Regions from separate parts of the Homo sapiens genome. Here region 2 is linked to region 1. The links come from fine-mapping of genetic effects on gene expression. A gene starts in region 1. The other region holds a variant in brackets. All regions are shown on one strand. Distances are between the middles of the regions. Region 1 holds the start of RASSF4 (Ras association domain family member 4). Region 2 overlaps RASSF4 (Ras association domain family member 4).

What was found. PIP is the estimated chance that this variant, and not a neighbour inherited with it, causes the effect.
Region 2: its variant is fine-mapped to the expression of RASSF4 in whole blood (TOPMed, PIP 0.97).

Annotation. Positions count from the first base shown.
Region 1 is chr10:44,955,123-44,964,595 of GRCh38, reverse strand. It overlaps RASSF4 (Ras association domain family member 4), which reads right to left and starts at 4,794. Exons shown (of 11, transcript NM_032023.4): 1 at 4,730-4,794. It overlaps TMEM72-AS1 (TMEM72 antisense RNA 1), which reads left to right and starts at 4,907. Exons shown (of 8, transcript NR_033842.1): 1 at 4,907-5,004. RefSeq lists enhancers at 1-66, 187-246, 257-336, 4,821-5,115 and a silencer at 4,824-5,043.
Region 2 is chr10:44,981,550-44,991,540 of GRCh38, reverse strand. RASSF4 (Ras association domain family member 4) reads right to left here. Exons shown (of 11, transcript NM_032023.4): 4 at 8,878-9,020; 5 at 7,428-7,519; 6 at 6,571-6,728; 7 at 2,166-2,267; 8 at 1,820-1,871; 9 at 472-593. Among named protein-coding and RNA genes, the nearest start is that of DEPP1, 7.7 kb to the right of the region's middle. RefSeq lists enhancers at 1-539, 7,139-7,639. The variant C/T (reference allele first, on the strand shown) is at 5,537.

The DNA of each region.
Region 1 (9,473 bases):
CCAATACACAAATGGATTAAAGCGAGGCTGCATGGGTGGCAGCAGGAGTCAGGAGAGGATGGGCTGGGGCTGGCCTGCCACCCAGGCTCAGGCTCAAAAAACCACAGAGTGACAGATGCAGCTGGACAGGCCAAGTCGGCCAGCAGGCTCTCCCCTCCTCCAAGCCGTGCCATTCTGCTGGGAAAGTACAGCTTTCTTTGTCTGGGCCCGTTCCCCTCCCCCAGGTCCCAGGACATAGCTCAGGCCTCCACGCCTGTTTCCCAGGCTGGAGGACACTCTGTCCCCAACCAGAGTGATCAGCTGCAGCCAGGGCTGTCTGTACCCCAGAGGAGGCCCCCTAGGCGGCATGCCAGCCATGGCTACCTGTCCCAGTGAACAAGCAGTGAGTTGTTCTCCCTTTCCACTTCAGCAGCTGCTCTGCCAGCCGTGCAGAGAGAGACAGTCTGCTGTCACTACTGAGGGACAAAGGCCGCCGAGGGCTTTAGAGCTGCTAGGCATGGGCCGTCTTTCCTTTTTTGTGTTTGTGGGGAAAGTTATTACAGAAGAAGGTGACTGTGATTCTTTCAGTCACCCCCGGGGCCCAATTCCTACAGGCCAGTGGCAAAAGGAACAGAAGATGCCGAGTGAAGTGAGGCTTTCGTGACACGAAATTGAGTCCACTTGAAAGCCTTTTATTTTAAGACTGTGCTGCCTGCTTTTCCTTCTGACAGTGTCCCTTCTTACATAAAACATGGCCAACACAGATGTGGTGTCCTCACTTGGCAAAAGGGAAAACGTACAGGCATCCAAATTAAAATGTTCTAAGCATATCTGTGAAGTCTGAGAGCTTGGTTACCTCTGTTTTCACATTTCCTGAAATTGTGATTTTTATTTTCTTATTTCAGCGTGATTTAAATCAAATAGGTCATAACGAAAGTGACCTGGGAAGCAAAAGAAAGGAGGACAAGTGTGTGGGGCACAGCTGGGAGCCTGAGCTGCTCCCGCTGGTGGAGGACAGCAAGTGCAGGCCACAGAGCAGGTGCAGGCCACGCTGACGGCATTCCTGGGGGGACTAAGTTCCTGACTGCAGTCTGTGGCTACCACATTCGAATTGCCAGCCACAACGGCAGCAGGGCACAGAGGACAATGAAGCTTTAAAAGGCCCCTCCCAGCACCTGTTCGCCAGCAAATGGCAGGAGCCTGGCCAGTGAAGAAGTTGCAGCGTCTGCCGAAACCAGGTGCCTCTGAGGGGGTACCCTCAGCCAAGCATTTTTGTGGTGAGAGCCGGCTGTCTGGTTGTAGATGGCAGGCGGCGACTCAGCAGCTGCTGCTCCCACCTCCTTCCACACTGCTGTCCCCTCCTGCTGCCCAGTTCCAATCACCAGACCCCTCCTCTCCACTCCCGCCATCATCCCTCTGGCTCAACTCACTCCTCCCTGCCCCAGAAGACTCTGCACTGTCCAGGTGGAGGTGATGGAGACCAGGGGAGTCCAGGAGAGGCGGGCACAGAGCTCCCCTCCACCTCCACTCCCGCCTTGCCCTGGACTGACCACACAGGCCCAGCTCACCTTTACTCCCCGCTGCGGTTCTGGCCTCTCACTGACAGGTCTCTCTGAGTCCAGTCCAGCATCCAGGCCTCCCTGATACAGCTCCCCTTCCTCTGAGAGCCTGGCCCTGAGCAGCCATGTAGATCGCAGACCAGCCTTCCCAGTGGGCAAGACTTCTGGCTTCTGCCCTTGTTTCAAGGCAAAGCAATTTGGGACAAGAAAACCATTTCCAGTCCTCCTGCTCCCCCCTTACACCTTAAACATACATTCTCTGCTCCTGGAACCCCCTGAACCACTCCTCAACTTCCCCACCAACCAGGCTCACCTCTAGCCTATGGAAGAGAAGATCCACAGAAACAAAGATCTTCTTAGCTATGGTTTTCGGGCCAAACGTGCTCAAAATGGGCACTGTCCAATATCCCGATTGCCTGGGGCTGGGAGTGCAATGCAGAGGGGCAGACCCCTCTGGGTGCCTGCTGCTGCAGGGCTGCTCTGGAGGCTCTCTACGGCTGCCCTCACCTGTGCTGTCCACTGCCCCAGGCCTGTGTGCCACATGTCACTGCTGGGGACATAAGGGCCCTGTGAGACAAAAGGGTCCCAGAATCTTTTGGGTCATAGAGTCCTTTGGAGTCTCTTGAAAGCTTAGTGCACTCTCCCCAGAAAATGCATGTATGTGCATGTTGTTGCAATCTGCATCCACGTGCAAACACACACACAATTTGCATATCACTGCAGGGAGATGAGACAGCTCTTGTCCATGTACTCCCAGATCCCCAGATCTTAGGTTTAGAATCTCTGCTGAAACCTGTCACAGCAAGAAAGAGGAGGCAGAGGAACGTTGTAGAGCCTTGCATGTGAGTTTTGCTGTGGCATTAACTTGGCCTGTGATCCTAGCGTGTTGCGCCGTCTCTTGGGCATCAGTTTAGCCAGAGCTGTTGTGGCAGCTGATAGAGAGTCTTCAGGGCTCTTCCCAGCACTGCAGCTATGGGGCTCAATGACACCCCACCCCTGCTTCCCAAGGTCAGGCAGGGCAAAGGGAGGGGGTTCCGGGCCTCTTCCTCAACAGTATATCCTAGGGCAGAAGGTGGGACAGCCAGAAAAGGAGACCCCGGGAACTACAAGTTTCTCTTTTACAAAAATAAGAAAACTGTTGAAGCTTTAGGAAGTGCAGCCACTTCTTATTTGATTTTCTTTATTTTAAAACAATTTCCCCAAACATACTCTGTGAGAGAATAACCACCTAGCCTTTGCAAGGCTCTGGGTTTAAAGCTCTGCTCTGTGACTGCCTGGCTCTGTTACCTTAAGCAAGTCCAGTTCCCTCTCTGAACCTTGGGCTCCTCATCAATTAAATAACTATAATCCTCGATGACTTCTGTGAAGACGAATGAGGAGACCTGTAAGATGGGCCTTGTGTTGGGCTCACCCATAATGAAAAGAGGCTCCCATTACTATTCTTATTGACACTGGGAGTTGGGGGCTCTGGAGAGACTGTGGAGCCCCAGAGATGGGAATGTGAGGCCTGCCTGCAGGAGTGGCCATGAATGAGGAGAGAGTCTGAGCTGACACCTGAAACCAGGCCCCAGACCCCAGGGGCCCAGGGCAGAGGGCTTTCTGGCAGATCCCCTAGTTAGGTCTCCCCTTTGAGGCTTTGCACGTCCAGAATCTGAACTCTGACACACACCCAAGTTTCGTTCATGTTCTTTGTTATCTGTCATGGTCCACTTGGTCCTGACCCAGGGCGACCCTGGACCTTGATTCTGTTCTCGACCTCCAGGCTACCCACTGGAGCTTCATGGTGGAAATACAACCCAATCTCCTGAGTTTCAGACAGACACTTTAATCTGTAGCATCAACCTTTTTGTTGTCAAATCACCAGCACTACACACTGAGAGAATTATGGCTAGAACTAATGACAACAGCCTTCACATACACTGACAAAGTGCTGAAACAGCCCATGACAATTTCCGGCCAGCATTTTTTTAACCTAAGTTTAATGAGTTTCATCTCTCCTCTTCCCTCCCTTCCTCTTTCTCCTCTGACCCTCTCCCTTCCTGTCTTCTCCCCTAACCTGCTGTCCTGGCAGAAGTAGCTAAGGAACCACACAGAGGAACAGAAGGCAGGATGGTCTACATTTACCTGTTACTTCACCAATTCACTTCTAACTTAAAAAAAAATGGTTTCTGGCAACAAATCCTGATTGACACCTTAGTACTGTGGGCAGTTAAACTACAGCAAAGCCAGCGAGGGGCTCCTCTGTGAGTGCAAAGCATAGCTTTGGAGTCTAACCTGCTTGGGTTCAAATTCCAGAAGCCCAGCCCTTATTTGCTGTGCGACCTTATTTAATTCCTATGTGAAATGGGGCTCCTGAAGCTGTCCTTACTGTGTTTTAAGAAAGTGCTGGCCCTGGCCTGGGCACTGATTCTGGTGTGAGAGGAGGCCTCCCTCCCTCCGCCGTGCCAGGTTAATGAAAACACTGAGGCATGTTTTGGAAGTGGGAAGTGCAGGATGGGACCGGAGTCAGGAGCCCAGAAGAGCAGGGCAGCAGGCAGGCTGACCTTCGGAGACTAAGGGTGAAGAGCAAGAGACTCAGGGGCACAACAAGCCCTGGGTTCAAATCCTGGCTCCATCACCAACTCATCCGGTAAAGGTGGACAATTTTATAACTCTTTAAGCCTCAGTTTTCACATCTGAAAAGGGGATAACGAAAGTAGGACTCTCACTTGCTGTGAGGAGTAAGAGGCATATCGTGTTAAAGCACTTGGCCCAGAGCAAGGCGAGCCCTCTACAGACAGCGATTGTGAGACAGACCCCCCCTGCTGCTATTATCTTGGCGTTCGATTTCCATCAGTGAAATCAGAGTTGTGCCAGAGGCCTCTAGGCTCTCTCCCCAACTCTAGGATCAGTGCTTCTAGGAAACTGGTTAAGGACAAGGTGAACAAAAAAGGTGTAGCCAGTGGCCGGGCTCATCTGTCTTGCTCAGGTTGTAGCCCCTAAATTGCTTAACAGAGGTGCCAGGCGCAGTGCCCCCTCTCAGCAATGAGCCCGAGGCCCGCAATGCGCCAGGCTGGCGGGGGAGGGACCCTGCGCGCTGCGGCCGAAGGGCACAAGTGCCCAGGCTTCAGCGTCCCTGCCTGGTGGCAGTCCTGGGTCGGAGGGGATGCTCCATGGACGCCCAAGCACTCTCCTGCTCGTTCATCACTCACCGTCCAGTCATCGCGCAGTCCAGAAGCCACTGCATGTGTCGTGTCCTCGCTTGCACCGGAGCTGCGCCCGCAGCGCCTGCTGACCCCAGGCTTCAGCTGCTCGGGGCCAGGCCCGCCCCTCGCCCCGCCCCTCGCCCCTCGCCCCGCCCCGCTCCCCGCCTCTCGCCCGGCACGGCCAAAGGTGCCGCCCCGGTCTCTCCGTCCCGCCCCGAGCACGCCCCTCACTCCGCACCGGCCAATGGCACCGCCCCGTCCGCCCCGCTCTGGGAACGCCGGTAGGTTCCGGGTGCAGGGCGGTGGCCTAGGGGCGGCGGGGAAGATTTGGGGCCTGCGACCTGCCAGGTGTCCCCAGGCCATTGTTCAGCTCGCCGCGCGCTCCCGAGTTCCCGAGGGCGCCCCGGGACGCGAGGAGAAAGCAGCCCGACTCAGCCCCGAGAGGTTCGGTGTGCGGGCAGCGGCCAGGGACTTTGCGGGGTAGCGCGGACTCCTGGACTTCCAACAAGGGCCGCTGCGCAGGCGCTGCAATCACTGCAGGCACTTGTCTGCATGCCTGGTGGGGCTTGGAGTCTGGGGAGGCTTATCAGTAAAGCCCAGAGCATTTGCTATTTATTGCTCAAGGGGCACCTTTGTACAGTCTGGCCGTTTGCTTGGCATGGCCTCTTAGAACTCCTTATTGTTTAAGAAATCCGATCTGGTGAATAAGAAGTTAGTCTTTCTCTCCCAGTCACTGCCTCCTGGACGAATATTTGCCAGCACGGAGGCAGAGAGGACAGAAAACCACAAGCCATTTGGGGAACTGGGAACAGTTCAGTGTTTCTGGGGTGTGGGGGTGTCAAGGTGGGGGATGGGGTTGATGGAAAACATTTGCAATTTCTGCTTTACCTCACGATTCCCAGCTCTGACCTCTGGACCTGTTCTCTCCCACCCCTAACATAAATCATTTTAGTTTCATTCAGTGTGCGTTTCCTAATATTTTTAGGGTCTCATGGCCATTTTAGAATCTGATATGGATCTTCTAGAAAGTGCAGGTGGCCATATGCACCAAAATCAGCCTGGGATTTGAGTCTCATGGGTCCCTGAACTTCGACTTAGAGGGGCTGTGCTAATGCTTGTATGGCTGCTGTATGACTTATGTTGGAACCCCCACCTGCAAAAAGTGACAGGACTGAAGATACCCAGTCCAGGGGCCCTCCCGTTTCTGCGTTTGCTTGAATTTTTGGAGAATGGCCCATCCTTTGACAGCTCTGAGGCTCCCTGTGGTTGGTGACTTGTCATGACACATTTGCTCTTCCACAGCCCTCATCAAAGCTGAGACAAATAATCGGGTGCTTCCAAAGGTTTTTTAAAAGTGGGTAAAATTCAATATAACTGTCAACCTCTGAGCATGAGATCCTAAGAATTTAATCACTCCTGATAGGAGAAGTAAACATAGCACCAGGGTGACATAACAGTTTCCCTGGGCTCTCCAGAACTCGAGTGTGAATCATTCTCTCTGACCTAATTAATGCTGTTCACAGGGCCATGACTGGCTCTGAGTGAGGACTGGGTTTGGGACAGCAACCCCATGTGTCCTGTGCACCCATTGTGGGCTCAGACACTATGCTAGTGCTTTACATTGGGGATCCCATGCAATTCCCCCAGCACTCCTGGGCAGTTGGTGTTACTGCTTGCATTTTTTAAAATTTCCATTTTTATTTTAAATTTAGGGGATACACGTGCGGGTTTGTTACAATTGTACATTGTGTGGTACTGAGGTTTGGGATTGATCCTGTCACCCAGATGGTGAGCATAGTACCCAATAGGAAGTTTTTCACCCCTCGCCCCGCTGTCTCCCTCCCACTTTTGAAGTCCCCAGTGTCTATTGTTTTTATCTTTATGTCTAGGTGAACCCGATATTTAGCTCTTTTGCTTGTAAGCGAGAACATGTGGTGTTTGCTTTTCTATTTCTGCATTAGTTCGCTTAGGATAATGGCATCCAGCCACATCCATCCTGCTGCAAAGGACACGATTTTATTCTCTTTTATGGCTGTGAGTGCTTGCATTTTACATCAGACACAGGTGTCCATTGTCAGCGTCCTCCCCTCAGAAGGGGAGGGTCCATTGTCAGACCCCTCAGAAGGAGGGGTCACCTTTTCTTTCAGGGTTCAGTAGAACTGGGTGTGGTCTCCAGCTCACTTATGGTGGAGGCTACAGATACTGTTGGTTGCCAGCCAATGTCCATTTCCTTCTTTGGAAAAAAGAAAGATAGGAAAGAAGGAAAAGGACAAAAAGGAAGGAAGGAAGGAAGAAAGGGAAAGAGGGAGGGAGGAAGGAAGGAAGGACGGAAGGAAGGAAGGAAAGAAGGAAAGGAGGGAAGGAAGGAAGGAAAGGAGGGAAGGAAGGAGGGAGGGAGGAAAGAGGGAATGGGGAAGAGAGGAAAGAGAGAGGGAGGGAGGGAAGGAAAGGAGAGAGAAATACCCACTTGTCTGTAGCAGCAACATGCCAGCCCCTAGTTATGGCTCATGCCCACTTGTATTTTTCATACTCTACTTACAACCCAATAGTGGGTCATGAAATTAATTTAGTTGATGATGTGACTAGTACTTCAAAAATGCAAGGGAAAATACCAGTGTACAGCACAAATAGTAAATATAAGTTGTGTTTTGTGGAACTTTTTGTTTGCATTGTTTATGTTTCAGTTATGTGTGCTTCTTACTGTGGGTTACAGTTAAAAAAAACAAAACAGCTGTCTAAGTCTTGACAATCCTTTTCATAGCTTTTTTTCAGTGAAGCTAGAAGTGGCCATACGACCTACTTCTGGACGCAGAGATGGGGGAAGGTGTCCTGGGGGAGGAGAGATCTGAGGGATGGTGAAGATAACTTTTGCTTTTCTGGTAGAAAGAACAGATGTCTCTCCTGCCTGCCTGTCTCAAATGAGGACATGATGTGTAATGTCTGGAGCACTGGCAGCCATGTTGAGATCATAAAGCAACATGTCCGCATGCTGAGGCTGGCAGAGCATAAAGATCAAAGGTGTCTGGATCCTTCTTAACATCATGGAGCTTCTGCACCAACCCTGCACTGCCTACTCCAGACTCCCTACCATGGAGAAAAATTAGCCCCTATTTCTTCAAGGCAGAGGTTGGTAAACCTTTTCTGTACAGGGCTGGATAGTAAATATTTTAGGCTTTGTGGGCTAAATGGTCCGTGTCACAACTACTCACCACTACTGGGGTAGTTTGAAAGTAGCCATAGACAATATGTAAACCAAAGGACATGGTTGTGGTTCTCATAAAACTATTTTAAAAAATGGATGGCAGGGCTATAGTGTGCCAACCCCTTCCCTAGATGATCTTGTCCCCTAATTGTCTCTCTGACCTCATCTCCTCCTACTGCCTCTCCTTCTCCCTGCTCTGATCACACTGTTTCTCCCACACACCCAGCCTGTTCCTGTCAGGGTCATTCCTTCCCTTGGAGGGCTCTTTCCCCAGATGTCCACAGCGCTCCCTCCTTCCCCTGCTTCAGGTCTTTAATCACAAATCACCTCCTTTTTCAGGTCGTCCCTGGGCCCTCTGTAAAATGCCCGTCCCTGACCCACGCATACCACTCTGGCATGCTGTATATTCCAGTCTTTATCATGAGCTCCTAGAGGAAGAGACACTATGTTTCCTTAAAAACTGATTCTGTCTGGATTGTCACAGTGTTTAATCAATATCTGATGTATGATTGATTTTTTTTTTTTCTTTTTGCCAGATTCAGGTAAGAAAACAAACTCAGGGAGGCTGAGTTCCCCCTCCAAATGACATGTGCAGATAGTGGCAGAGTCCAGGTTTGTGCCTGATGGCCCAATGTGGTGGTGTCTGTACCACCCGGGAGTGAGGGAAAAACAACATCTACCTCTAATGGAACACACTGGGTCTCAGGGGAGCCAAGGCCACACAGAAGTTCCTGCAAGACTCCTTGCTCCAGGGCGCCGCCCCAGTAAAGGAGGCCTTTGGGAGTCCATTAAGTGAGCAGGGTGTCCTGTTCGTCTTGGGCAATTGCATTCTTTTTGGCCTTCCTACCTCAGAAAGACTTAGGAAATGCTGTTATTCTGCAAACAGTTTGGACTGACTTGTAAGATCCGTAAAAAGACAAATGGAAACACTCATGAGCCAGTGTTTTTATGAAAGAGCCGCAAAGGATAAATTTATGTTTAATTCGCAAGTAGGGAAGCTCATAAGAGCCTAAGAGCTTGATAAAGGCTACTGGGCCCATCTGTCAGGCAGGCTGCTCTGTGTGGTTTTGGCTTGAGGCATCTTGGCACCAGGGCACAGCTTCCAAAAGACCGAAAAATTACCTTCTTCCCTTTGGTGCTCCCAGGGGGAAATGCCTGGGTACAATCACATGTTGTTGAGATGTCATTTAGATTTTTGAGTCCTGAAAAATAGGTTTATATATCTTGATGTAAATGATATTAATAATGAGAACCATTTTCAAGCCATTCTCTTAAGACAGTAAGTGGGATTTTGAATTAATTTCTGATAGATCTGATTGATTCCTTAAGGCCTTTTATGGATGGCTTCATGTGATTTTTTCCCCCTTCATTGTATCCAACATTAAATTAAAAACAAATGACTTTTATTTCTCTTTCTTCTTTTTCTTTCTCTTTCTTTCTTTCTTTCTTTCTTTTTCTTTCTTTTTCTCTTTCTTTCTTTTTCTTTCTTTCTCCTCTCTCTCTCCCTTCCTCCCCCTTCTTTCCTTCCTTCCTTTCTTTCTCTCTCTC
Region 2 (9,991 bases), 27 kb before region 1:
TAGGCCTCCTACTTGAGGTTCAAACCCTGTAAGCATCTTCTATGCAGAGGAGTTTGGAAATGCACTCACTGTCTGGTCAGAACTCAGGCTGTTGGTAAGACTTAAATATCTCCCTGTTTTCCACAGGTGCGAGGTAGGGCCTAGTTAAAAAGCCTTTGCATAGGTCTCTCACATAATGACAACAAAATACATTCCAATGAAGGAAAAGACTTTACTTCCCTAGAGGAAAAGGACAGGCCATGGTTTTATAGGACCCAAATTCTTCTTTCCCCTAAGCTGCTGGTGCTGGCGGTCACTGATGGGAGAGGGAGGGCTGGCGCCTCCCTGTGCTAGGCTGGGAGCCCTTTGGGAGAGTGTGGAGCTCCTGGAGACATCAACTGACAGGGCTCTGGCCAGGAGTCCTTGGGAGGCCCCGTCACCCAAGAACCCCTCACCCTAGAGCAGGCCTCCCCAGCCTTGGCCCCCACTCACTTCATGGGGGACTTCCACGCCCAAGTCAGCTTCCATCAGGAAGATCCTGGCGATCTTCTCACATGGCCCATGCAGGATTCTGGAAATCAGCGGGTACTCGCAGTCTTTTAATTTTGTCCGCTCTGAAAAAGAAGGTGGTTTACAAAAATCACGGGAGATTAGGATCACCTCTGTCTGTTCCAGATTAGGAACTGATAGAAAATGTGCGTCTAGGGGCGCAGGGAACCCTAAGAACACAGACCTCGCTAACAGCGCTGCCCTGAGAGATTCCTGCTCATGCAGAAGGGAGGCAGAACAGGGCCCCCAGATCTGCCACTTTGGCATAAGGATTAAGTGGAGCGGCTGGCAATTGAGAAGAAGAAGATACAAGTGAGGCTCTTTGCCCTCCCCTATTTGCCAAAAAGCAGGACATAAATTTGTCAAGGTGTGCCCCCGTCCCTCTCTAGGCAATGATGGAGTTAATCACCAGAGACAACCCGAGCCCCTCCTCAGCCTGGAGAGGGCACCAGAGGAACCTGCACAGCACGTCCCGCTGAAGCCCTTCCCTTCCCGCAGCTCCCCGTGCGGTGACCTTCCCACCCTTCGCCTCCCCAGAAACTCAGGCCCTTCTCCTCTGTCTTGTCACTTCTCTAAAAACTTACTGCTCTTTTGTGAATATGCTATTTAAGCCCAAATTCTGACCATTCATCCCTGGATATTCCAAAGGGCATGCATGATGCAAGTGTTAACAAACTTCTGTTTGTTCTTCTCCTTAATCTGTCTTTTGTTAATCTAAATACAGGGCCCCAGCCAGTGAACCTAAATGGGTAGAAAGAGAAGATAATTTTCCTCCCCTACAGTGTCATTCAGCAAAGGTGCAGCTTGAAGAGAAACAAGATCTGAGGGGTGGGAGAAAGGAAAGCTGAGACGGGAGGGCCAGGGCCTGATGCACTGCGACACGCACCCCACCCTTCCTGACTCGGCGCCAAGGAGCTAGGTACCCACCCATCCATTTCTCTGGAAGAGGCGGAGAGGGAGGCTTCCTATAGCTTGGTGGGATTCTCCTTCAGAATCCTGAAAGAATTAAACTTAATGTACTGAGCGACCTAGAAAATCCAAGGACATTTTAATGTGCTTTAAATTCGAAGCCAAAAGTATGTTTTCTTTTCCTCAAGGCTTCCATAGTGTGCCTGGGTTTGGGTGGGGGAGAAATGTTCATGCTGGGAGGCACAGTGTGCCCTAGCCCACTAGGCAAGCCAGCACGGAGCCCATCTGGAAGGGAGTACAGTCAGTGGTTGGTGGGGAGGGGGCTTGCTGAACAGGTAGAGACCTTTTGCTTTTACGATCCAGAAGTGGGGCAGGTACTTACCCCCAGACTCGTGAACGATGTAGAGTGCGAACTCACTGGGGCCATCTTCCACCTGCACAGGCAGTCACAGGAAGTCAGATCACGGTGCTTGGAGATGGGAGAGAACTGAGAGGGTCCCCTGACAGTAACTACACCCCCAGTAACACACACGCAAGTTGCAAGGAACCTGTCCTCTCCCAACCTCCTCTTGCTTGAAATCCGAGAAACCAAAGCTCAGCAGAGGGACCCTTGCTAGACCTTCTGCCCAGGCAGCTTCTGCCACGGGCAGCTTTCCCCAGAACCCCACCCCCAACAGAATAGCAGACCACTGGCATCCTGGGGCAAGGCTGCTCCTGACCAGGCTTACCCTAAATTTGTTCAGCAGCAGGGTGAGCACCTGCAGGGTTGTCATGGTGCTGTTGACCCTCACATTGGTCACGGATCCATAGGCTGGAGTAAACACGGAGGTCTGTACCAGGAAGGGAGAGAAGTTCAGGTCAGGCCCAGAGGGGACAAGGGACTGACATCACAACGGTGAACAGACCAAGGCAGCAGGTGACGCTGAGATCTGGGAACACCTGCACCTGTCCATTCACGCTGATGCACACATAAGCTGTTCCCAGACCTGGGAGACACTCCGGGAAGCTGTAGTAGTGCACTCCTTCCAGAGGCCTAAGGAAGATGTCTACACACCCAGAAGGGCCAGCTCTCTGGACCCGAGGAACCAGGGCCATGGAAGTCATTCACAAGGGTGGGGGAATCAGTCTCTCCATCACTCTTTCTATTGATTAAGTCACCAGTTGTCTGTTGATTCTAAGGCTGAAAGTTACCCAATCTGTCTCCTCCTCTTCATTCTCCCAGCAGTGCCTAGTAGAGGCACTGATCACACCATATCAGCTTCCCAGCTTGTTCCCTTCTGGTCTCAGTCCCTCTAATCCGTAGTCTGCACCGCTGCCTACAGGAACGGACTTCTAAAACCCTTGCACCTCCAAGTGACGTCTAGCCCAGCTGCATCCATACAGTCTCGGCTCCCTTCCCTACCCTGCTCCATACCATCTGAATCAGAGTCTGCGTCTGTAGAACACAAGGCGAAGCGATCTGTGCAGTTCAATGTGAGAAGCACTGTTTGAAAGCGCGGGTCTAAAAGTATCTGAAGGCTTCCTGGGGACTGTGCAATAACATCTGTAGTTCTTCTCATTGTCTCGCACGTATGACACTATGGTTGCCTAACAAGCACCATGTGCTCCAGTCACAGAGCTTCTTCACAATTTGGCTGGGGGGTGGGGGGACACATTATATTTTTGCAGGTATCTTGCCTTTGCCTAAGAGACACCATATATGAAATCAACCAGGACTCTGCCTGACACATAATAGGTCCGTCCTCAATAAACCCTAGCTGTGTATTGAACCCGCTAAGATTTTACATACAATCATTGATTTAATATTCATAACAACCCTTTGAGGCAGCTATAACTAGTCCCCTTTTCTTAGAAAGGAATCAGAGGCTTTAGGAGGTTAACCAGCTTGTTCAGAGTTACCCACCTAGAAAAGACAGAGCCCTGACTCAAAGGATTCCATGATTCCTGAAAACCTACATGTTACCCCCCTGGTGCTGGTGCCTCCCAGCGAATGTGACTCCTCTGCAGGTGAACCTCTCCTTGCTTTTCAAACTCAAGTTTAGATTCGCATATTCCTCCTCTGAGATCCTAGCTCTGTTTTCCCAAGGAGGTAGCTAAGGCTCAGAGAGCTCAAGGACCTATTCAGTATCCCCGCTCTGATAAGTCCAGGCACACCTGGGAGCCATTGTGAGTTCAGGTCCAGACCATCACAATGAAGCGAATATCTCAATAAAGTGAGTCACACAAATGTTTTGGTTTCCCAGGGCATATACAAGATATGTTTATACTATACTGTAGTTTCTTAAGGGTGAGACAGTACTACATCTAAAAAATATGCATGCCTTAATTAAAACTACTTTATTGCTAAAAAATCTGACACAGAGACACAAAGTGAGCACATAGTGTTGGAAAACGGCACCGATAGACTTGTTCAACACAAGGTTGCCACACACCTTCAATTTGCAGAAACCGCAGGTGCAGCAAAAAAAAAAAAAAAAGTGCACATTTTTGCAAATGGAAGGTTGCTGAACAGCAACCTTCCATTTGCAAAAATCTGCAAGGTACAGTAACAAGAAGCACAATAAAATGAAGCACGCTGTGCCAGAGTCAGACTCAACCTCGACCTGCTTCCCCCAGCTCGATTCTAGTTGAGGTGCAGAATGACTGAGTTATACAGAAAGCCAGGATTAGGATTAGGCTTTCTTGTCCAAAGAAATATGGAAGAGAGGGCCAGGTGCAGTGGCTTACGCCTGTAATCCCAGCACTTTGGTAGGCAAAGGCGGGCGGATCACGAGGTCAGGAGTTCAAGACCAGTCTGGCCAATATGGTGAAACCCTGTCTCTACAAAAAATACAAAAATTAGCCAGGCATCGTGGTGCGCACCTGTAGTCCCAGCTACTCAGGAAGCAGAAGAATCGCTTGAACCTAGGAGGTGGAGGTTGCAGTGAGCCCAGATCGTGCCACTGCACTCCAGCCTGGCTACAGAGTGAGACTCCATCTCAAATAAAAAAAGAAACATGAAACAGAGGAGTTAGGCTATTTCAAAGGGACAAAAAGTCTTGTTAACAAGACACTGTGTTTCTTCTGCACGAAGCCTTTTCTCAAGATGATACCAACCAACTCCAAGTAGGAACAAAGGCCCCCTGGCTACTTTCTTATCTCTAACCACAAATGGTTTCTCTCTAACAGAACGCATTTGAATCCAATAGGTCAGGCAGTAGAAACAGCTACAAAGTTTCACCCTGTCTGGAAATAAAACCAACATTTCTGGGAATCAGAACAGTTTTGGAAAATGACTGAGTGAAGTAATGGTGCACAGTTCTAAGAAACAAAACCTGGAACTATCTCAGAAATTCAATGCTAGGAATTATTTATTTTTTCAATTGTTGCCTCTGACTCAAGGAATCTGTCCCCTCATTTCTAAGGACATTAGTTCTGTATGGATGTTGAGCGTGGTAAGAAAGGGCTTTTTGCATAGTGCTTTTCTTTGGGACTTCCCTTACCCAGGAGGTGGGGGAGCTACTGTCCCAAATGCTTAAGACACTATTCTGTGTCCTTGAAAGCAGTACTTTTTTCTGGAAGAATGGATTCACATTGCAAGGGCAAATCTGTCACTAGGAGGAAAAGCTGCCCTCACTGGGTGACAGGCTGAGACCCCATGTTGTCTGGCTGAGTAGCTCTTCTTGATAGTGTGGTTCAGTTGGAAATGAGAGGCTGCGATGAAAACCCTCACTGTTCATTTCAAAGGCTGCAGAGTGCTCAGGACATGCAGAGAGCTCAGTGTTCCTATGACACTGGCAATCACTACAATAAGGTTTAATGTACCAGACACACCTCTTAGTGATGAATGAGACCCTTCGAGGAGAAGCGAATGTACCAATGCTAAACTCCACCATTCAGTACTTTGAATCATGGAGCAAAACATCCCTGCCCCCACCCTTTTTTTGGTAAGGAACATAGAACTGGAAAATACCTAAACCCACGCACATATTTTGGAAAATTTTTGAATAATTCCTTACACTAGCATATCAACATTTATTTGAATGCTAACAATGGGTACCCAACACATTACACACTAAACCCCTTTTGGAACAAGATTTAAAGAATACTCAAGTCATGT[C/T]ATGTGTCCTTGGGCTAATCTACACCTTTGTTAATCTCTGCCTAACTTCAATCCTGGGTCCCCTTTACTCTCTCAGGAGACTCTACTTTGGAATAGTCCTGGATTTTTCCAGATTTAGCAAAGGCAACCCTATTGTCATTCATTCACTCACCACAAGCCTAGCAGGGGGTGGAAGGGAGATCCTGAGATTAAAGCAGGGTCCCTTCAGCTTGCCCAGCAGAATTCCAAAGTAGACATTCCAAAGTCCAGGGCACCCTAAGTGTGGCTTGAATGGCCCCTGGATAGCCTAACCTGGGACACCTGCTCCTTCAGATCGGACCCTGAGACCCTCCTCCTGAGCCCCCTCCCTGCCATAAGTCATCCTCTATCAAGAAGGGCAGCTGCTTCAACTGGAAATCTCGGCTTGCATTTCCCAGTGCTGAGGGAAAGATATGGCCTGTCACAAGACGCTCCATCCAGGGCCTTGCCCAGACAGCCAATCATTCTATTTACAGTAACAATCAACTTCTCCTGCTACAGTTCAGTTTGTTTATAGAATGATGTAATTTGGGGAAAGAAAGCTTTTCCTGAGGTCAGTACAATGCATCCTTGGACAAAAGGCTGTGTGCTGGGAATCTGGGGTCGTCCAGGTTCTCTGGGGCACAGACACATGTGCCCTGGGCACACCCCTGCTTAATTATTCGGTGAGAGTGATGGCTGGATACACAGTGTTCCCAGGGATCAACCAATCGAGTTCGGGGGGAAGCCTCCTAGAAAGCGCCCTCATTGAAGACACGGTCAGCGTTACTGTCTGCCCAGGGCATCCCCAGCTTACTTGCCAGAATTCTGTGTGACTTGTGAGGATGCACTGACAGTGAGCATGTGCTGGAAAATGCTTAGGTCATAAACGGGGCTGTTATGTGGATGCAACCTGGTTTTTCCTCCTGAGGGCACAGGAATGCCAGCAGCCCCCACACAGGTCATGGTGCTTGCTGTGCCTGTGCTCAGGCCTGGCTCCCCATGCGCCCAGGGGAGAGGCCAGGCTGGGGCATCACCTTATGATTGTAGAAGTGGCCGTTGATAGAGAACCGGTGTCGCCGGATGCGCTGGGCCTCACCGGGGGCGCGGCACTTGGGCCTCCTCTGGCTCATGCAACTGGCGTCGCTCTTGGTCCGCATCAGCTGGGGGGCCTCCTCTGCCTCCTCCAGGGGCCCTGCATGAGAAATGGGTGAGAGAATGGCAGGGTGGGTGATGCTGACAGAGCAACTGCCTGCTGTCGGGAGATCTGGCACCCTAGAGCCCTGTGGTCACGTGCACTGGGGCAGATGGGGACGTGAGGGCCATTCCTGGACTGGAGGCTGGATATTCCCAGCTTGCAGATAGGAAGGTGAGACCCAGACAGGGTAACCTGGGTCACAATGTCACATGGCCATACCCCTCTTGGTCTCTGTCTTAGGGTGCCCATGGAGGTCTTTGGTGGCCCCAGCCCTGTCTTCTGAGCCCCTGCTCTGAAACAGGCCCTTCACTGAGGGCTAAAGGAAGGGGAATAAAAAGGATGAGTGAGCAGGTACAGAGGGTGAGGACGAGGTCGCAGAGGGAGGTGAGGGGCCAGGAGAGCGCAGTGCCTTCTGTGGATGCTCCTGTTTCCCATAGCACACACAGGGCGGGGGACTCAGGCCACCCCCACACTGTCACTGTCACCTCCCAAGCCTCTGCTCACTTTTCCATAAAAAGGAGCGAGAATGAGGGCAGAGCACCTCACAGGCAGGCACCTGGGTAGGGGTCCAGCAGGTGAAGCCCCTCGTTGGCTGGGGCACAAAGCTGTCCTTCGGAGATTGTGGTTGTGAGCCAAGCCCCTCTGCTCCTACCCCGGATGAGGCAGGGGTCTGGGCAGCTTGCGGGCTCCGCTTACCCGAGCTGTCTGTGGAACTCTCAGCCTTGTGCACTGGCTGAATGCTTGGCCCCTGGGCTGTGATGTTCCCGTTCTGGGGCGATGGCTCCTTTCTGAAAACAGACAACTGCAGGGCTGAGATGGCTGCCGGCAGAGAAAGGGAGCTCAGGCCAAGGAGAAGAGACCAGCAGCCCCTGGGGTAGGACACAGGCGGGAAGCAAGGCAGGCTGAGGTGAGGCCTGGATTTCAAACCAAGAGAGTCAGTCTGAAACAATAAAAGAAAAGTAGAGGCCTCCCCCCAGCATCTGCTGGACGGAGAGTGAGCCTGGCCCTGCAGACCTGAGGGCTTGTGCTGGGCTGCATCGCACAGACACACGGACACATGAACATAGTCAGGGCCTGCGCATTCCTAGACACCAGGCTTAGCCAGGCCAGCAGCTGTGTGCCAAACAGGCTCGCTGGGCTTCCCGAAGGCCTAGTGGGGTGTCAGGCAGGGGCCACCTAGAAGGGCCCAACCTCCAGGCCTCTTGGCAGGATGAGCCCCAGGCCAGGGTAGCTAGTGCTGGGCTGGAGAAGGAGTGGGTATGATGGGGCACAGCCCTGTAGCCCAGGGGACCTGGGGAAGAGAAGACAGATGGGATCCTGGAGAATACACGGGCACAGCCGCGACTGCTGTCTGTGAGTGCTTTACCTCGAAGAGGGGCACATGTGAGTCACACTTGCAGCCTTCCTAAGGAGTCTGACTTTATGCTCTAATTCTGTGTGCCTCAGAATTCGCTGAGTGACTGGGGACACCTAGGTATGTGCTGGGGCTGTCAGGGTGGTGGGTGCTGTCACAGCATGGGTTTCATATGAAATCTGAAGGGGGCAAAGCTCTGAATGTGTGCCCTCTACAGGAGTTACTACTGCAGAAGCAGGCAAGGCCCAGCTACTAACTGCGTCTTTTGGGAGTGGGCCGAGGAGGAGATAAATGTGCATTGAATGGTAAGGCAGGCAGGAGACCATTTCCTCCTGACAGAAACATTATTCTGATATTAAACAAATGTAATGTGAAATTCTGATAAATTTATTTTTAAAATTTTGACATTAAAATGAAAACAGAGTAGTAAGAGGCTAAATTCGTGTGAATTTTAAAGATAGAACAAGAGATGGCGAGACATGTTCGGCTTGCATAGGTGTTGGGAGCCCCCCTGGCTGTAGTCGTCCCTTCTTGCCAGCAAGGTGGCTTGCAGGAAGGTTTGAGAAACAGAAATAGAGGTCATGGGAGCCTGGAATGTTCTCCAGGAAGGAGGGAGAGGCCACCCTGGGCGAGGCTGTGGACTGAGGCAGTCACAGGGCATGGGGATGAGGCTGGGTCACCCTCCTGTGCCAGTGTCCCATAAGGGAACAGGGCTCCCACCCTGAGGCTCGGGATATCCCCAACCCGGGAGCTCAGGCTGAGCAGGTGTCACAGAAGCCACCGGGTACTCACAGAGGGCAGCTAGGCCGTCTGGGCATCCATGAGGTGGAGGGGAGGTGCACCTGCTCCCGGTCATCCTGCATCTGCAGCCGGATGGGCCGCCTCAGCCCCCAGGCAATGTTGAGGAGCCCCTCGATGATCAGAGTCCCTTCTTCCTGTGGGGGTCCACACATCAGCCCTTCCCCCAGAGCAGCTGCCTACCTTCCCTGTGCCCCCTAGGGATGGGATGCTCTGAACACTCAGGCCTTGCACATCCCTCCTCCTGAGTGGCCCCATCCCCTCAGGAAGGACCATCAGCCACTACGTGCCCTGGGGCGTGTGACCAGGCCCTGTGGGAGGGAGCCTGAGATGTGCTCAGCTCATGCCTGGCCAGGGGCACAGCGCAGAACACAGTGGCTGAGTCAGGTGTCCCACAGGAAGCCAGCTGCTGGCCGGCAGGCACGTCCACACCGCGGTGAAGAAGTGGTTCCAGGGACGCACAGCCTGTCTGCTCATGCCAAGCAGGGGACCTCTCTGCCCACACTGCACCTGGGAGGGGGTCCTGCGCCACCAGGTCCTATGGCCACCAGGCCCGGCAGGGTCCCACACCCACCAGAGGAGAAGTGGGCACTCTCTGTCCTAGCTGTGTCTCAGCCTCACCCTTCTCCCGGTGCCTTCCAACAGCAGCAGCGTCCACTTGCCAGGGCTGACAAAGGGTCTTGCTTTTCTCACCACTGCTTAGACATCACTAGCCCTATATCCCATACCAGAATTTCTACAACAGCCTTCATCCCATGTCCCCAACCTCCCTCGGTTTCCCTAGGTCTGCAGGTGACATGGCTTCTCTCCTGCTGCCAACCTGGGGCCCTAATCAACAGAGTCCTCTGCACGCACCTTGCTAGTAGTGCTGGTTGGCACCCCTTGGGCCCTTGATTCAGTGCCTCTGACCTATTCCAGGCCTCTGTCTCTGCGAGACCACCCCAGGCCTCTGTGCCAATCCCGGTCACTCTGTGTGTAAGCCTGGCCAAGCTGAGTCATTTGCCAGAATACTTGCCAGCAACCTCAGCTGCCCTCTACCCAGAGCCGCAGTCTCGAAACTACACACTCCTAATGTGCTCTGACACTAGTCTTCCCACAATTAACTTTG